Regions from separate parts of the Homo sapiens genome. Here region 1 is linked to region 2. Evidence: fine-mapped expression QTL. A gene starts in region 2. The other region holds a variant in brackets. All regions are shown on one strand. Distances are from middle to middle.

Region 1 (9,060 bases), 22 kb before region 2:
ACCACTGCTCCCTATCCCAGCCCCTCAGACCCTTCCCTTATCAGCAAGGTATGTCTGAAAAAGTAGTACTATGAAGATTATCTGAAATACACACACACACACTCCATTAGGTTGAGTGGTGAAATATTCAAAGCTTTCTACTACGATCAGGAGGCAGCTGAGGAGCCCACTGTTACCACTCCATCCAGCACTACCCTACAAGGGAGGCCTCAGGCAAGGGAATAAGGCACAAGAAACATTGTGAGAATTGTAAAGGGAGAAAGAAAACTGCCAGTATTTAGATGACATAGTGGCCCATAGACAAAATCCCCCAAAATATACAGACAAGCTGTTAGAATAAATAAGTAAATTGAGTAAGCTCACTGGATACAAAATCAGTATAAAAAATCAAATGTTGCTGGGGTAGGCAAAGATTTCTTTTTTTTTTTTTCCTTTAAATAGAGATGCGGTCTCACTATGTTGCCTAGTCTGGCCTTGGACTCCTGGGCTCAAGCAATCCTCCTGCCTCAGCCTCCTGAATAACAAGATTTCCTAAATAGGACACAGAAAGTACTAACCATAAAGGAAAAAACTTGATAAATTTTTCTCCATTGAAATTAGAATTACTAAGCCGGATGTGGTAACCCATGTCTGTGGTCCCAGCTAGTAGAGAGGCTGAGGCAGGAGGATTCCTTGAGCCTAAGAGTTTGAGTCCAGCCTGGGCAACATAGTGAGACCCTGTCTCTAAAAGTGAAAAAAAAAAAAAAAAAGGAACGAATCAAATGTTTTTCTACCAATGTACAATTAGGGAAAGGAATTAAAAGGACAACATCATTTATACATCATAAAAATATCAAATACCTAAAAATAAATCTAACCCAAACAGTGAAAGCTCCCTCACTACACAGAAAACTTCAAAACATCTTTGATAAATACTTAAAAATATCTAGGCCAGGCATGGTGGCTCATGCCTATAATCCTAACCCTTTGGGAGGTGGAGGCGGGCAGATCACTTGAGCCCAGGAGTTTGTGACCAGCCTGTGCAACATAGTGAAACCCCATCTCCACAAAAAATAGAAAAATTAGTCTGGTGTGGTGGCGTGTGCCTGTAAGAGGCTGAGGTGGGAGAATCACTTCAGCGCAGGAGGTCGACACTGCAGTGAGCCATGACTGTGCCACTACAGTCCAGCCTGGGTGACAGAGTAAGATCTTGCCTCAAAAAATAAAAAAATTTAAAGATAATCTAAATTAGTGTTCATGGATTGGAAAGCTCCACCTTGTAAATCCTCCCCAAATCAATCTATAGATTCAATGCAATTCCAATCAAAATCCTGGCAGGAATGTGTGTGTGTGTGTGTGTGTGTGCAGAAATCGATAAGTTGATTCTAAAATTTGTATGGAAATGGAAAGGATCAAGAATAGCCAAGACTTTCTTCAAGTAGAGCACAGCTGTAAGACTTCCAGTACTAGATATTAAGACAACATGGTATTAGTGCAAGGACAGAATAGAGAGCCTGTGGGACAGAATAGAGAGCCTTGAAGTGAATCCACCCAGATGTGATTATTTGATTTCTAACAAAGATGATACTGCTCAGCTATACTGGGGAAAGGATAGTCTTTCCAATAAATGGTGCTGGGCAATTGGATATTCATGTGGAAAAAAGGTATCTTGATCCCTATGTCACATCATACACAAACATAAAATTCTACATGGAATATATATCTAAATATAAAAGGTAAAACCACTAGAAAAAAACAGAATATATTCATGACCTTGGGTAGGCAAAATTTTGTTGTTGTTTGTTTGTTTGTTTGTTTGTTGAGATAGGGTCTTGCTCTGTCACCCAGGCTGGAGTGCATTAGTGCAATCCTAGCTCGCTGCAGCATCAACCTCCCAGGCTCAAGCAATCTTTCCACCTCTACCTCAGCCTCCTGAGTAGCTGGGACTATAGGCAGATGCCACCATGCCAGGCTAATTTTTGTATTTTTTTTTTGTAGAGACTGGATTTCACCACATTGCTCAGGCTGGTCTCGAACTCCTGGGCTCAAGCGATCCTCCTGCCTCAGCCTTCTGGGTAGCTAAATTTCCTAAACAGGACACAAAAAGTTCTAGCCATAAAGAAAAAAAACTTGATAAATTATTCTCCATGAAATTTAGAACTTCTAAGCCGGGCACTGTGGTGTGTGCCTATAGTCCCAGCTACTTGGGAGATTGAGTCAGAAGGATTACCCGAGGCCACGAGTTCAAGGCTGCAGTGAGCTATGATTGTGCCGCAGCACTCCAGCCTGGGTGAGAGAGCAAGACCCTATCTTTATAATCAAAATAAAATAAAATTAGAACTTCTGTTGATCAAAAGTCACCATTAAGAAAGTGAAAAGGGGCCGGGCATGGTGGCTCACGCCTGTAATCCCAGCACTTTGGGAGCAAGGCAGGTGGATCACCTGAGGTCAGGAGTTCGAGACCAGCCTGACCAACATGGTGAAACCCCATCTCTACTAAAAATACAAAATTAGCTGGGCGTGGTGGTGCATGCCTGTAATCCCAGCTAGTTGGGAGACTGAGGCAGGACCTCCTTGAACCTGGGAGGCAGAGGTTGCAGTTAGCCGAGATCGCGCCATTGCACTTCAGCCTGCGCAACAAAAGCGAAACTGTCTCAATAAATAAATAAATAAATAAATAAATAAAAAGAAAGTGAAAAGGAAAGCTGCAGAGTTGCAGGAGAAATTTGCACCACAAAAGGCTTGTATCCAGAGCATATAAAGAACACTAATAGATCAACAGGAAAGAGACAGATAACTCAGTAGAAATGGGCAGGCAACGTGAACAACCCCGCCACAATAAGGCTTTCCAAATGCCCTGTAGTCATATGGAAAGACGCTCGATATCATAAGTCACTAGGGAAATGCAAAAGCTACAATGAGCTAAAATGAAAAAGACTGACTTCTGAAGATTGGCAGGGGTGTGCAGCAAATGGGGCTCTTGTACCAGCTGGCAGGAGCGTGGGTTGGCACAACCGCTTTGGAAAACTTTATGACAGCACCAACTAAAGCTAAGCATACGCAGCCCCTATGACTAGCAAGTCCATATCTGGGCCTGTATCCAACAGAAAAGTATTCATTGTGCCCCAAAAAACATGCAAAAGAATGTTCACCACAGCACTATTGTCAACAGTCCTAAACTGAAAAAATCCAGATGTCCATCAGCAGTAGAATGAATAAATAAATGGTGGCGTATTCATACGAGGGTGTCCAGCAATGCAAAGAAACAAACTGTAAGTACAAGAAACAAGATGGGCGAATGTCATAGGCTTAATGTTGAGCAAAAACTGCCAGACACAAAAGAACACATATTCTACGATTCTGCTGATGAAAAGTTAAAAAACCAGCAAAACGAACCTATGGTGGTAGAAGTCAAGATGATTGCTACCTTCTAAGAAGGAAGAAATTGGGAGGAGATATAAAAGGGCTTGGGGGATGCTGGAAATATATTTCCCAACCTGGGTTCTGGTTACACAGGTGTGTCCATTTGGTGAAAATCCATCCACTTTTCTGTCTATGCGTTACACTTCAATTAAATATTTCCATTAAAATAAAATAAAATGGTGGCCCAGAGAGACTCATTAACTTGCCCAGAGTCACGCAGTTCTTACGCAGGAAGTTAAAAGTCTTAGGTTCTTATTCCTTCTTCGTTCCTCACTCTGTAAGGTTCTGGGCAAGCGATCTCTTTCTGGGGTTTACTTTCCCCAACTGTGTGGAATAGAAAACACACACACATGCGCACACACACGCACACACACACGTTATTGCAAAAGCTGGCAGCAGAACTAGGAAATACCTTGCTGGGCTCTCTTGGGATGTGAAACAGAGAGAGAGAGAGAGAGAGAGAGAGAGAGAGAGAGAGAGAGAGAGAGAGAAAGGATCTATCTAACTAATAGCTTGGGAGAACTCTCGGTTTCAGGAGACCACTCAGGAGAGAATTCCTGAGGACAGATGTGGAGAGAGAGAGACAGACAGATAGAGATAGAGACGAAGAGAGATTGAAAACCAAGACAATAAGTGGTAGGCAACCAGAGGGAGGTGGAAACATGGGCTTGGGAGCTGGGTGGAAAAGTAGCCCCTTCTTCTCCATCACCCCCATCCCTCAGGAATGATCCCCCACCCTCACTGCCTTGGGTGAAGAGTATTTAGGGAGGAATTAAAGGGAAGGGGGGCTGCATTCCACACCTGGGCTGACACAGTTCGGAGCAAACAGCCCACAGGTGAGAGGCAGAGGGCAGTGGGAATGCAGCAAGGACAGGTCAGGGAGGCCGGGGTGAGGGCAACACTCAACGCCACTCGAGTATGTGTTGTTTTCTTTGAGCCAGACTCTCACTCCGTCACCAAGGTTGGAGTGCAGTGGCGCAATCTCAGCTCACTGCAACCTCCACCTCCCTTGTTCAAGTGATTCTTCTGCCTCAGCCTCCCGAGTAGCTGGGACTACAGCCACCCGCCACCATGCCTGGCTAATTTTTGTATTGTTAGTAGAGACGAGGTTTTGCCATGTTGGCCAGGCTGATCTCAAACTCCTGACTTCAAACTCCAGACCTCAAGTGATCCGCCCGCCTTGGCCTCCCAAAATGCTGGGATTCCCACTGCGCCTGGCCTGGGTGTGTCTTCTAAATGTGAGGGTGGAAGGAGAGCCTGCAGGTTTGGAGGACTCAGGTACCCAGGTGACGGAGCCTTGGTTTTCCCACAAAAGCAGCAGGGGAAATTAGATGTGGTTTAGGGCCAACCCAGCCCAGCGAACTTTCTCCAAGCCCCTGCCCACACTAGCTCAGGGCTGCAGAAGGTCAGCCCCGCTGGCCAGACATGAACACAAACTCATGGAGAATGTTGGAGGCCAAAGGCCGAAGTGGCTAGAAAAAGCCATGGTGATTTTCCTTACTGACATCTGGAGGCTTGAAGGAGAGCTCTCCCCACCCCACCCATTCCCCACCCAGACTTGTCCTTGGATGGAAGGATTCTGACCCCCAAAAGAGGCAAGGGATTCCACGCAGGTCCCAGTCCCCAAGGATAGAATCATCTGGCCCTGAGCAGCCAGGAACTAGTGGCCTGCTGATTGCAACACATCAAGGAGCAGCTGATACTGAAGGCCAGGGAGGTGAGGGGGG[G/A]GAAGGAGGTTTACCCATAATATCATCTGCCTCTCACCATTTGGAGGCGGCAAAGATTCTGAAGGCTTTGATCGGGCTGGGCCTCACCTCTGACTGAGCTGTCGCCAGCATGACCGCAGTCCACCAGCAGGAAAACTGCAGGAGGTGGCACTTTAGTGACTGTAGTGCACAGCTGAGGCCTGGAGAGGCTCCACCACATACCCAAAGCTGCACAGCTGGGAGGTCATGGGCTGGGGGGAGAAGAGGCCAGCACTCTGGGGGAGCTGGCAGGAGTGCTAGGAGCTGCTTTGCTCCTGGTGGTGAAGGAGGCTCCAGGCTGGGGGAGGAGCAGTGGTGAACATAGCCCCTAAGAGAAATGGGAGACTGCTTTGATGGAACCCTCCTCATCAAGGCTTATCTCCAGATGCCACCTCCTCCAGCCAGCCTTCCCAGATGTCCTTATCAAAGAGGCTGTCTCCTTCCTCATCTCCATCCCCAACCCCCCAGCACACAGACCATACTGAGTCCTGTCTCCCAGCCTGAGTGGGGCCCTGCCCTGCCTGTCTCCCCCGAGCACTGACTGGTATCTGAGTAGCAGGGTGGATGGGCTCTGCAGGCTGTCCTCCTCAGGGAGCCTCACATGGACTTTGAGCAGGGTAGCTGCTCACCAGCACTTAGGCCAACCAGAGAAGAGCTCCATGCACCTCTGCCCAGCCCCAAGCTCTCCTTGGGAAAGCTCCATGACAGGTGAGGTCAGCCCAATCCAAGGCTTCAGAATCTCTGCAGTCTCCAAATGGTGAGAGGCAAATGAGATCGTGTGGGTAAACTTTTCTCCCTGCTCATCTCCCTGGCCCGCAGTATCAGCTCCCCGCAGCCTGCTGCCTCCTAGAAGACTTCCTGAGGGAGGGAAAGACGGTGGCAGAGAGTAGGAGCCAGGGACAGACAGAGGATCTTCCAGAAGCTGGGAGAGGAAAAGGAGAGCTTGGGGCTGGGCAGGGGTGTTTAGCTCTCCCATGATGGCCGCACTGCCCTCCAAAGCCCTGATGCCAGGGTGGACCTGCCCTCCCTGCCCTGGCTCAGGACTTGCAAAAGGTGTGGAAGGACCAGCCGGTTGCCCCATCCTGGATGGGCAAGAATTTGGGACCCCTCTCTGCCTCTCAGCTCCCACTCTCCCCTGTGATCCAGTCCCAGCCTGGAAAGCCCTGTTCAGGGGAGGAGAGGTGGTGAGTGAGTAGGGGTCCCGTCCTTTACAAGAGCCCTTTGTCCCAAGGGGCCTAGAGTCTCTCAGGCTGACGGCCCCTCCCGGGCTGGCCTGGAGGCAGAATGAGGACTCCCCAGGGGGCAGATGAGACAGTGTCCCTCATTGTCCTCAGGTGCCTTATGGGGCAAGGGAGCAGGTGTTTACCGACTCAGGAGAGGCTTGGTTGAAGTCCAGGTTTATCTGCTTAAACCACGTCGAGGGGGAGAGGGAGGCTGTTTGTTCCTACGTTTCCACCCCAAACCTCCCAGGGCAGGGGTGGGGGCCTGCAAAGGGCAGGGAAGGCTGAGGGCCTGGGCTCTTGACACTCCAAGGACGTCAGCCACTGCTTCACCTGGCCTGGTTCTCTTCCTCCCACCAAACCTCTTTTCAGTGAGTGGCACCTGGATTCCTGTCCCACCCTGTCTGTGCAGACATGAGAGATGAAGAAAGAGGGGGACAGAGAGACAGAGGGAGACAGGAATAGGAGAAGGAGGTGGGTCATGGAGGCAGAGTCGGTGGAGCAGGGGAGAAGACTCCAAGAGGGACTTGGGCAGGGTCCTGGGAGTGGGGCCCGGCTGCCCAGCTTGGGAGGGGCAGCACAGGGCTGATTGTCCAGGGGCCGCTGCAGCCTCCCCAAACCCTCCAGTAGTTTGGGTATGGGATGTGGCTGTGTGCCCTGGGAGGTGGCTGGCGGGCCCAGGGCAGTGTCCCCACTCCTGTCAAGCTCCTTGAGTATTTTTTCCTGTCGGCTCTGCCTCTAGGGACCGCTTCCCGCCCAGGATGTAAGGCAGGCAGCAGCTTGTCTGACCCAGCCTGGCCCTGGGGGAGACCCCATTCTTGGTGGCTGGATAATCTGAGCCAGGGAGACAAGAGAGACTGCTCCCACCCCCATCTCAGCAGCCTGGAAGAGCAAGGCAAGAGAGACTGCTCCCCGCCCTTTGCTTCTCTACCTCTCGTTGGAGAGCAGGCCATAAGCATCTGGGGTGCAGCCAGATTCCTGCCAGGCGGGTGGGCTGGGGGAGGGATCGGGGCAGGCAGCGGGCTACTGTTCTCCTGCACCGCCTCCCAGGCTCCTGCCTCCTCTGGCCACCCCTCCCTGTGTCCAAGGCCTGCTCGCCTGAGTGAGACATGAGTAATGGACACAGCACAGGGCCTGACCCAAGGGCCTTGGCTGCAGGCCCAGCACTAGGAACACTGTAAATATTTGGGGGAATTAATGATGCTCCTTCTCCCCAGCCAACTCTCTCCTGCAACCCAGAAGGCTTATGGGAGGAGGCCACAGTGTCCATCCCTCTGCCTCCGAGCTGAGACAACATTAAGGATATAGGGGTCCAGACTGCTGGGTCCTTGACTGGGTTTGGCCACAGACAGGAGAACCATACTTGTAATGTGGCTGCACCATCTCAGCCATCCCCCCGGCCTCCAGGCCAGCCAGCATCTCCTCCAGCCTGGAGATCCCAAGCCTTCTCTCTCAGGCACAGAATCCTTTGTTAATGGATGTTCTTTCTGAAATCTAGCTTCTGCCCTTCCAGGAACCCCTTCCATGGTTCTGGGATGGCAATGAATGGGTCTGCCCTTTAGGTAGTTAATGGTGCTCCTCACCCTGCTCTGCTGCATCCCCTCCTGGAGAGCTTCTGCCTGCTGTCACCCTGTCCAAGGGCCCAACCCTGGTGGATATCCCTAAACTTCTTGGGGTCCCCTTCCCTGCCTTAGCAGAAGCCTGGAGCAGGCATGGCCTCTCTACCTTTCCTGACATTTCCCCCTCTCCTGTGGCCTTAGATTGAGACAAGGATGTCGTTTGAAAGAAGTCTCTGAACACTTACCATACCAGGCAGCTGGGAATTTTGAGGTCATCTCAAGGTGCTCCCTGTCCCCACTCCTAGGGCCCTGAGAGAGGCTGTGGATGCAGGGCTGCGCTGGGTTGGGCTCTGGAGCAGGAAAGCTGGAAGAAGGCAGTTGTATGTGCTTCTCCAATCTTACTCCCTTGTCCAGAACTTGATTTCAAATCTAGTTTCATGAGACTCCTTTGACCCACTTCCTTGGATAATATTGAGCAAGGTATTGAAATCCTCTAAGGCTCAGTTTCCTCATCTGTCAAATGGGGAAATGAGGATTTTTTTGAGCATCAGATGAGATATGCATGCAAAGCACTTAGCATAAGGTAGAATATGTAGTAAGTACTCAACAAATGGTAACCAGTATGACTAAGACTTTTAAGACTTAAAGGCCAGTTTTCCTTCTCCAAGTTCCCTCAGCTCCAAGCTCCAGGTGTGTTTCTCATGGCCTGGGAGAAACAGAGCTGTTCTGGAAGAAGGCACCTTGGGACGGGACAAGACACTCTGCTCCAGCCTGACTGGCCCTGATCAGGCCAACCTGCTTCACCCACTCTTGCCCCCACTGCCAGGATTATCATAGGCCCCCAGATCCGGTGCCTTCCTCCCACACCCACCAGCCTGGCCAGGCTGGTGCCTATCCCACTTCCAGGAAGAGGGACATAAACACAGCTGGGGTGGACGAGGGCCCCCAGCATCCTCTCTGGAAGCAGTGAAGCAGTCAGGGGCTCCAGGATGGATCAGGGAGAATCTGGGAATTCCTAGGACTCAGGTCAGGGAGTCCAGGGAGAGGAGAAGCTCCCGTTCCTAGAGCTGAGGAAAGAAGTGGCAGGGTAGTCCCCTCTGAACACTGTGTTTGGATCCCTACCACCTCTGCCTC
Region 2 (8,003 bases):
ACTTAGACTCCTCATTACACATATTATTCCTGTGTCCTTGTTTCTCTGTCTGTCTGTGTGTTTCTAGGTGGGTCTCTTCCCCATGGGGGAGGGTTGACAGATAAAGAGTTGACATGATAAAGTCAACTGAGGGATGAGATGATCCTACAGACGACGGTGCCACTGAAACCAAAGAACCCTGAGATTTCTCTTTCTCCATCTCTCCAGCTGAGATCCTTCTAGTCTCCATGTCTCCCTCCACTCCCACTCCATCTCCCCAGACTGGTCTGACACTCCCCCACATTCTTTAGCTCAGGCCCTCCCCCTACCAGTCGCCCCTGCTCTGCTCCACATTCCCTCTGGACACTCCCCTGGAGTGGAAAAACCATCCCTCATCCCTTTCCGGCTCCCAGTCCCAGGATCGGACATGCTGGTCATTCCTGTTTGGGATGTCCAAAGAGATAAGGCCTGGCATGGGGCCAATCTGTCATCGCAGGACTCTCAAAGCTGTTTCAGGCAGGATCCTCACCCACATGGCGTTTCCACCCTAAGCCCCTGCCCTTCTTACCCTGGCTGGCTCCTCTTCTCCAGGAACATGGCAGAGGACTCAGGAGCCAGGCAGAGAGCAAAGATCACTGTTCAACTTCCATCCAGGTCAGCTTCCTGTTCCTTGACCCCACATGTCTTCTAATCCCTGCAGGCCCTGGGCCACAAAGCAGACCATGAGAGAGGCTGGGTGGCTCTGGAAGTCAGAGGTCAGGAACAAATCCTGTTCTAAGGGCCGTTAGAGACAAGTGTCTTCTCCCCAAACACCACAGAGAAAGCTGTTATCACAGCTGCTTTTGTTTAGGCATGTCTAGCTGTCTGACAACCATCTGCCTGGAGTTTGTCTTCTTAAAGACACGGTTGTGGTCAGCGGCTTCAGTCCTAGCTCTGCCTCCCATAAAATTCAGATCTTGGACAGGCAGGTAACCTCCTGAGGCTCTGTTTTCTCCTAAGTCAAATGAATATCATAATCCCCACCTCACAGGGAGGCCAGGAGGATAAAATGAGCCTGCTTGTGAAATGATTTGTAAACTGTAAAGCTAGGCCAGGACCCTTTCCCAGGCTCTGAATCTAATTTTGTACTCATAATTCTTATGAGTACAAAATAATTTTATTCTTAAAGAGCACCCCAGATTGCACAAGCTTCAGGACCCACCAAACTTGGACACGCCCAAAGTAGTGTATAAATGTTCATTATTAGCATAAGTAGTTAAGGGCTCCAGGGTCAGATAACACAGGATGAAAATCCTAGTTGTGTGACCTCTGCCAAATTGCCTAACCTCCCTGAGCCTCATTTTTCTCGTTTTAAAACAGAGATAACACTTCAAAGATTGTTGTGAGGATTTAACATTTGTGAAGCATTTAGCATAGTTCCTGCTGCGTATGTGCTTAATACATGGTGTTTTGTTCTTATTATTTTAAGAATAGATGGAGAAAAGAATGCTCGGGGAGGCCAGGCAGGGTGGCTCACGCCTGTAATCCCAGCACTTTGGGAGGCGGCGGGGTGGATCACGAGGTCAGGAGTTCGAGACCAGCCTGACCAACACGGCGAAACCCCGTCTCTACTAAAAATACAAAAATTAGCCGGGCATGGTGGTGGGCGCCTGTAATCCCAGCTACTCAGGAGGCTGAGGCAGGAGAATCGCTTGAACCCCGGAGGCAGAGGTTGCAGTGAGCGGAGATCGCGCCACTGCACTCCAGCCTGGGAGACAGAGCGAGACTCCGTCGTCTCAAAAACAAAACAAAACAAAACAAAAAAACAATGTTCCGGGGAAAATGGGTCTCTGAGCTGCAATAAGAGAAATGTGAGTTAGATCCAAGAAAGTACATAGTAACCTCTTTTTTTTTTTTGAGACGACGTCTCACTCTGTCACCCAGGCTGGAGTGCAGTGGCGCGATCTCGGCTCACTGCAACCTGCGCCTCCCGGGTTCAAGCGATTCTCCTGCCCCAGCCTCCCAAATAGCTGGAACTACAGGCGCCCGCCACCACGACCGGCTAATTTTTGTATTTTTTTAGTAGAGACAGGGTTTCCCCACATTGGCCAGGCTGGTCTCGAACTCCTGACTTCGTGATCCGCCCTCCCCGGGTTCCCAAAGTGCTGGGATTACAGGCGTGAACCACTGCGCCTGGCCAGAGTAACCTCTTGAAGTTCCCTTTCGATTTGATTCCTTGGTGGAGGAGACCTTTAGTCTCCGCCCACTTACTGCCACCTGGCCCTACCCACCAAACACCTGATGGGTGCTGACGTCCGAGCCCAGTCTCCAAACACTCTGTTCGAGCTTGGGTGGGAAGAGGGAGCCTCTGGGATTCTGCTGGGCTGGGCCCTGAAGGCAGGAGTGGACGAGAAATGGATACGGTCTAGGCTCAGCTTCCCGGCTACGCAGTGCGTTCTGTGAAGGACGGACTCATTTCTACATTGACAGTCTTAGCCTTTGATACCAGAAGTCGCAGCACTTAGGGGGAAAAATGCTTTTTGGTAATTATAATTAGCGACATTTGGTTGTTACCACTGCTAAATATGTCTGTCTTTGCTGAGGAGCCAATCTCAGCTCGGATCAGGGTGAGTGGATAGGAGAAATAAATCTCGGCAAAGACAGCGAGGGGCCTGAGTGCGAGGAAGAACTCCCAGAGACCGCCAGCCACCTCTTGGGGACTCACAGCGCTGCGGAGGCGAGTCCAGCATTCTAGCCAGCCGCGCACGGACGTCGGTTCCCAGATGCGCCAATGCCAGGTCTCTCCAGCCCGGCTGGCCTTTTCAGCAGCAGCAGCAGCAGCCGCAGGAAAGCGGCCAGACAAATCCCACCCCCGGCCCCGCCCGTCACATCCATCTTGCTCCCCAGGCGACGCTTTCTCGGAGAAGCGAGGGGCGGGGAGGGGAAATCTAAGCCTTTGGGGGTTGCCGACAGGTGTTTGGGGGAGAAGGCGGAGCTGGGGTAGGGAGGATGAGGAGGGAGGGGCGGTGCTGCCCCTTTAAGAGGAGGCGGCCGAGCCGGGATCTTTTTCTCTTTCCCCGGAAGGAAAGCGCAGCCCGGGCTGGGCTCGCAAGGTGGGGAGGTGCGGGACTGGGCGTGGGGAGGCGGGGCGCGCGCCGGGGGACCCCTCCCTCCTGTCCTCCTTGCGGTCGACCGGTGCGCTTGCCAGATCCGCCGCGAAGCCGGGATCGAAGGCGACAGCGCGGCCAAGGGGGCGCGGCCGGGACAAGCTGGGGGCCGGTTGCCCGGGGCAGGGACGGCGGCGACCCGGCCGCTGGGGAGGCAGGAAGATAGACCCACGGATCTTAGGAAGGGATCCGAGAGCGCAGCTGTGAAACTGGCTGGGGCTGGGGGCACGAAACCGATCAGCGCTACGGAGCGCAGCGGCCGGCGGGTTCCAGTGTCCTCCGGCGGCGCGGGGAGCAGGTGAACAGGTCCTCACGCCCAGCTCCGCGCCCTCACGCGCTCTCGCCGGGACCCCGCTTCCGCTGGCAGCCATGGGCCCCGGCCCCAGCCGCGCGCCCCGCGCCCCACGCCTGATGCTCTGTGCGCTCGCCTTGATGGTGGCGGCCGGCGGCTGCGTCGTCTCCGCCTTCAACCTGGATACCCGATTCCTGGTAGTGAAGGAGGCCGGGAACCCGGGCAGCCTCTTCGGCTACTCGGTCGCCCTCCATCGGCAGACAGAGCGGCAGCAGCGCTACCTGTAAGTGAAGCTGGAGGGTGTGGGGTGGGAGCGAGAGAGTGTGCGAGCGCGGGATGCGGGTCCGGAGCTGAGTCGGAGCCCAGGGCAGCTGGCCCTTGGGAGCCAGGATTAAGGGGCGGCCCTCTGGCTGCTGGGGGTTGGCGGGAAGTGGAGGATTGGGTGTGGGGTCGGGCAGTAATCATTGGCAAGTGCTGACGGGGCCAGAACCTGTCTGGACGCCACCCCTCCGCCCTTTAGATCTCTCATGAGAGCGGAAGTGGGGTCCCGGTGGCTGAGTCCTCTCCCATTCTGTGAACCGAGTACCCAGCACTAGCCTGTTCTCTCCAGGGCTGGGAGCTGGGGTAAACTGCAAGATAAACACCCAGCGGACTCCCCCCTTCCCGTACGCTTGGGGGAAAAATGAGCATATACATTTAAGCACCTCGCTGGTAGTCTGCGGCCACGCCAGCCACACCCTCTGCAGAGCCAGACTGGATGGCCTTCTCAACCGCTGGCTTGGCGGATGGAGGGTGAGGCGATGGGTGAGTCTGGGCGTTTGGAGCTGTCCATACGCTCCCTCTGACGCCTTGAGGATAGGGGCGGTGAAAGAGAGAGGAGGACTTGTCCCAACTCTGGCTGGGTCTCCTCCTGCCCACCCGCAAGCAGTGGCACTCTCCCCGCAGACATCTTCCCTGCATTCCACAGATTCGTGTTGGATCTTCAACCCTGAGTGTGTTTGTTTTGGTTTGAAGAGGGAAACAGTGTTTTTCTCTTTCTTCTGTTCTCCTTCCCCAACAGCTGCAAGGAGGAGGGGAAGAGCTATGCACAGTGGAGGAAGGAGGAGGAGGTTGCACCCAGCCTCCTGGGTCCCCCTCACTCCACCAGACGCCCTCATGCCCAGGAGCATGTCCAGGCTTCAGAGGTCTCTCTGCCGTGGCCTCAGAGCGCGCGGAGGTTGGCGGTTGGGGGAGGTGAAGCTGTCCAAAGAGGGACGGTGTTTAGGACAGGTTAAGCAGGTACCATCCACCACTTTGGGCTGGGCGATCTGCCAGGCATCTGCCCCCACCTAGCCTCTGCCCCCACCTGGCCTCTGACCCCACTGAACAAGAAGACGTGGTCACATCCAGGGTACACTGGAAAATCTCCCTGCTCTGGCTGGGGCCTGCAGAGCTTGAGGAAGTTTAGAATGTCCAAAGTCCAAACTCTGCCCCCGCCTTGGTTCTGCCCTCCTGACCCAGCCTACCTACCTGGACTTAACCTCAACTCCATCTTGCTCTTGCAGAGGCTAGGGCTACCACACCCTTCCCAGCCTGGCCCCAGCAGCTGCCACCTGGCCTTAGCCAACCCTCTATCTTTTGGAGATCCTGAGCCACCATGAGCACAAGTTTCTACATCAGCTCTTTCTGCCCTAACTGAGAAAAAGATTTTCAGACTTTCAATGCCAAATCTGCATGATATAAGATAACATAGGTAAAGAGATCAGACTGGAAAGAAAGAGTCAATAATGATTCCGCAACCCTTTTGCCTGGTGACCTTGAGCAAGATATTTCCCCTCCCTGGGCCAGGTTTCCCCCAAAACGGGTTGGACCTGGATCTAGTGCTCTTTCCCACTGCTGCTGGCCTGTGAGAAGCAACTTGATATGGTAGAGGGAGAAGAGGCTTGGAGGTCCCATGGCCAGTGTCCTGTCTCAGATCTGTTACCAATACCTGAACCTGAATTTCCGCACATGTTGGAGGGAGGGGAACAGCATGCCTTCTGCTGGGATGTTAGTGGGGCTGTAACGAGATAAAGTGCGTAAAATCCTCTGCACATGTGCCTTTCTCCAAGGAGCACCTGAAGGCTCTTGCGCTGAGGCCAGAACCTGGATGCATCCTCATTACCCATGGGCCCCGCCCAGGGTGGCTGAGCAAAGGGGTTCTACTTTTCTGTCTGGGAAGCTGGAGCTGGCATTCAGCCTGCCAAGAGCCCAGAAGGTTCTAAAGCTAATGAACCTCTGAGGGGCAGTTCTCTCCCTTGAGTATCCTCAGTCTTTCCTAAGGGTGGTTCTGTGTCTTGGCCCTTCTCTTCATCTCACTAAATTCGACCCCTCGGCCATTTGGGAGAGCCAGCTGGGCTTAGCTGCAGCCAGCTGTGTAGCCAGATGCAAACAGCTGCCTGAGTGCACAACTCAGAGGAACTAACTAGTAAGACGAGCTGCAGCCTCATATTCTGTTAGCCTGAAAGTCTCTTTGGAAAAGTGGGATGGTTCGTGGTCTTGGACAGGCTCTTAAACTGGGGTTCGTAGAAGGTTTTCAAGAGATGCAGGGACTCCCTGAAAGTGTACCCAAAATCGTAGTATTTGTCCACTGCCCTGGGGGTGGGAGGAGGGGAGAGCACAGCTTTCTTGTTCTCCATTCATAAGGCCTCAGAAATGGTTAGAAACCCAGGGGTGGGACCCTCTTTGCTGCCCCATCACCTTCATCTCTGGACTGGGGTTCCTGGTCCACAACATAGGGGGCTAGCCCCAACCCAGGGCCCAGTCTCCTAGTCTGTGGAAATGAGGGGTAAGGAGCAGGCAGAGGACCAAAGTGCTCTGGGCTTCTTGGCAAGATGCATGAGGGGTTCCTTGGAGGGACAGGGACTGTTCTCTGGGAGGTGGTTACTGACACCCTCTCTGCTCCAGCACCTGCACTGACATTCCCTCCTGGGAATCCAGGCATTCTGGTCTGGCCTGACCCTGTGGGCCTATGGGGATACTGCCGGTCCTTCTCTCTCTTTCACTTTTGCTTGGAAATGAGGGTATCTGGGAAGCCCAGGGCAGGGTGGCTCCTAGAAATGAGGTCATGCCTGAGGTACGCAGGAGCCAGGCTCACCTGCCATGCTCTCCTAACATCATGTTTCCCTGGGCAAAGCAGGTGCCTGGCAGCCTTCAAGGTTCGTGCCAGCAGAAATGGGCACAGCAGCTGTGGCTGGAGGCAGAAGGCCTGCTCGTGTAGTATCTTTTTCCTCTGGCTCTACCCAGTGACCAGTCTAGGCCAAGAGGCTTTCAACTGGGCAGGAGTAGGGGAAGCCTGATCTTGTAGAAAAAGCAGCAGCGAAGGGGGCTTGGTCAGAAGTAAACAAAGAAGGAAGAAGATCCCCTTTGCAGTAAGAGGAATTGAGGTTAGATGACACTTAGAATGCCCTCGGGGGTCAAATACAGGAAAAATACTGAAGAGCCAAGGAAAGGGAGCAGAACTGAGAAAAATGGCCTTGTTCTTTTTTTATCTGAGGCTTAGCCAGGGCTCTTTTTCCTGTCCTTTCTCATTCTCTCTCTCCCTCCAGCTTGTTGCTCTGGTTCTAGGGCTGAGTCACCAGTGGGGAGAGGGGGCTGGGTGGGCAGCAAGGGAAGGGTCAGGAAGGATGGGGAGGGCTGCAGTTTCAGCTGCCACAGGGCCGGCCTCTGGGGAGATGGCTAATTCGGGCAGCAAGGCTGGCATAGAGCTGGGATCCAGGCATCCCAGAGCTGCCCCCACCCCTTCTCTGGGGCTCAGAGGTGGAGCAGGCACCCTCCCCACCTGCCTCCCGGCCGGGGATAGGAGGGGAACACAGGAGGCTAGGTACCCAAGGAGTGAGGCCCTGCCATGTTGGCCTGAGTGCTAGATCCTTTGGCCCCCTCTGGAATCCTCCCATGGAGCCACCAAGTGCCTCCCTGAGGTGACAGAATCTGGGAAGGTGAATCTTACAGGCTGCTTCTCTGAGCATTACCCCACCCCAGTGCCCCCAGGGGCCTTCTCCTCTTTGAGGTGAGCCAACCTGGTACCCTGAATTCTCCTGGGTACTGTGCCGCGCCCTTCTTTGATTCTTCTGCTTTCTCCTTGGCTGTTCCATTAGCTCTGAACTGCCCCAAGGGGAGTGATAGGGCAGGGGTAAGGAAGGGCTTTTTCGGAACTTGGAGCTCAAGGGGCTCCGCAGAGGCCAAGAGGGGCTGTTTGGCTGGAGCCAATGGGAGGGTGAGGAGGCAGCTGTTGGAAAGCCCTTGAGTAGTCACTTCACCCATCCCACTCCATCTGGGGGGCTGGGGGTCTCTGCTCCCCCCAGTCCAGCCTGACTCCAGGAGAGGGGCAGTCCCATCTCCTATCTTCCTTGCTCTAAGAGCTCCATCTAGGCATCCCTCCACCTACTCTCCCTCCTTCTGGCTGCAGCTGAGGGGATGGGTTCAGTACTGCTCTGGAAGGGGTCAGCTTTTGGATTTTGTGATCTGGACCAGACCTAAAAGCAGGTGGCTGGCAGAATTGCTCATTTGTGTACTAATTTGCATTTCATTTGCATACAGTAAGGTCCCTCTCACCTTCAGGATTCTCC

Alleles and levels. Alleles are on the strand shown, and positions count from the first base shown. SD is a standard deviation of normalised expression in the study named.
As copies of G replace A in region 1, the expression in adrenal gland of the gene that starts at base 3,165 in region 2 goes up (moderate effect, 0.71 SD a copy in GTEx).

Evidence for each region.
Region 1: its variant is fine-mapped to the expression of ITGA3 in adrenal gland (GTEx, PIP 0.98).

What each region holds. Positions count from the first base shown.
Region 1 is chr17:50,030,439-50,039,498 of GRCh38, forward strand. No RefSeq gene overlaps it. Among named protein-coding and RNA genes, the nearest start is that of PICART1, 21 kb to the right of the region's middle. RefSeq lists an enhancer at 4,123-4,919. The variant G/A (reference allele first, on the strand shown) is at 5,130.
Region 2 is chr17:50,052,946-50,060,948 of GRCh38, forward strand. It overlaps ITGA3 (integrin subunit alpha 3), which reads left to right and starts at 3,165. Exons shown (of 26, transcript NM_002204.4): 1 at 3,165-3,700. The coding sequence starts at 3,495. PICART1 (p53 inducible cancer associated RNA transcript 1) reads right to left here and starts at 2,794. Exons shown (of 3, transcript NR_038230.1): 1 at 2,684-2,794; 2 at 548-682. RefSeq lists an enhancer at 1,593-2,119 and a silencer at 3,099-3,238.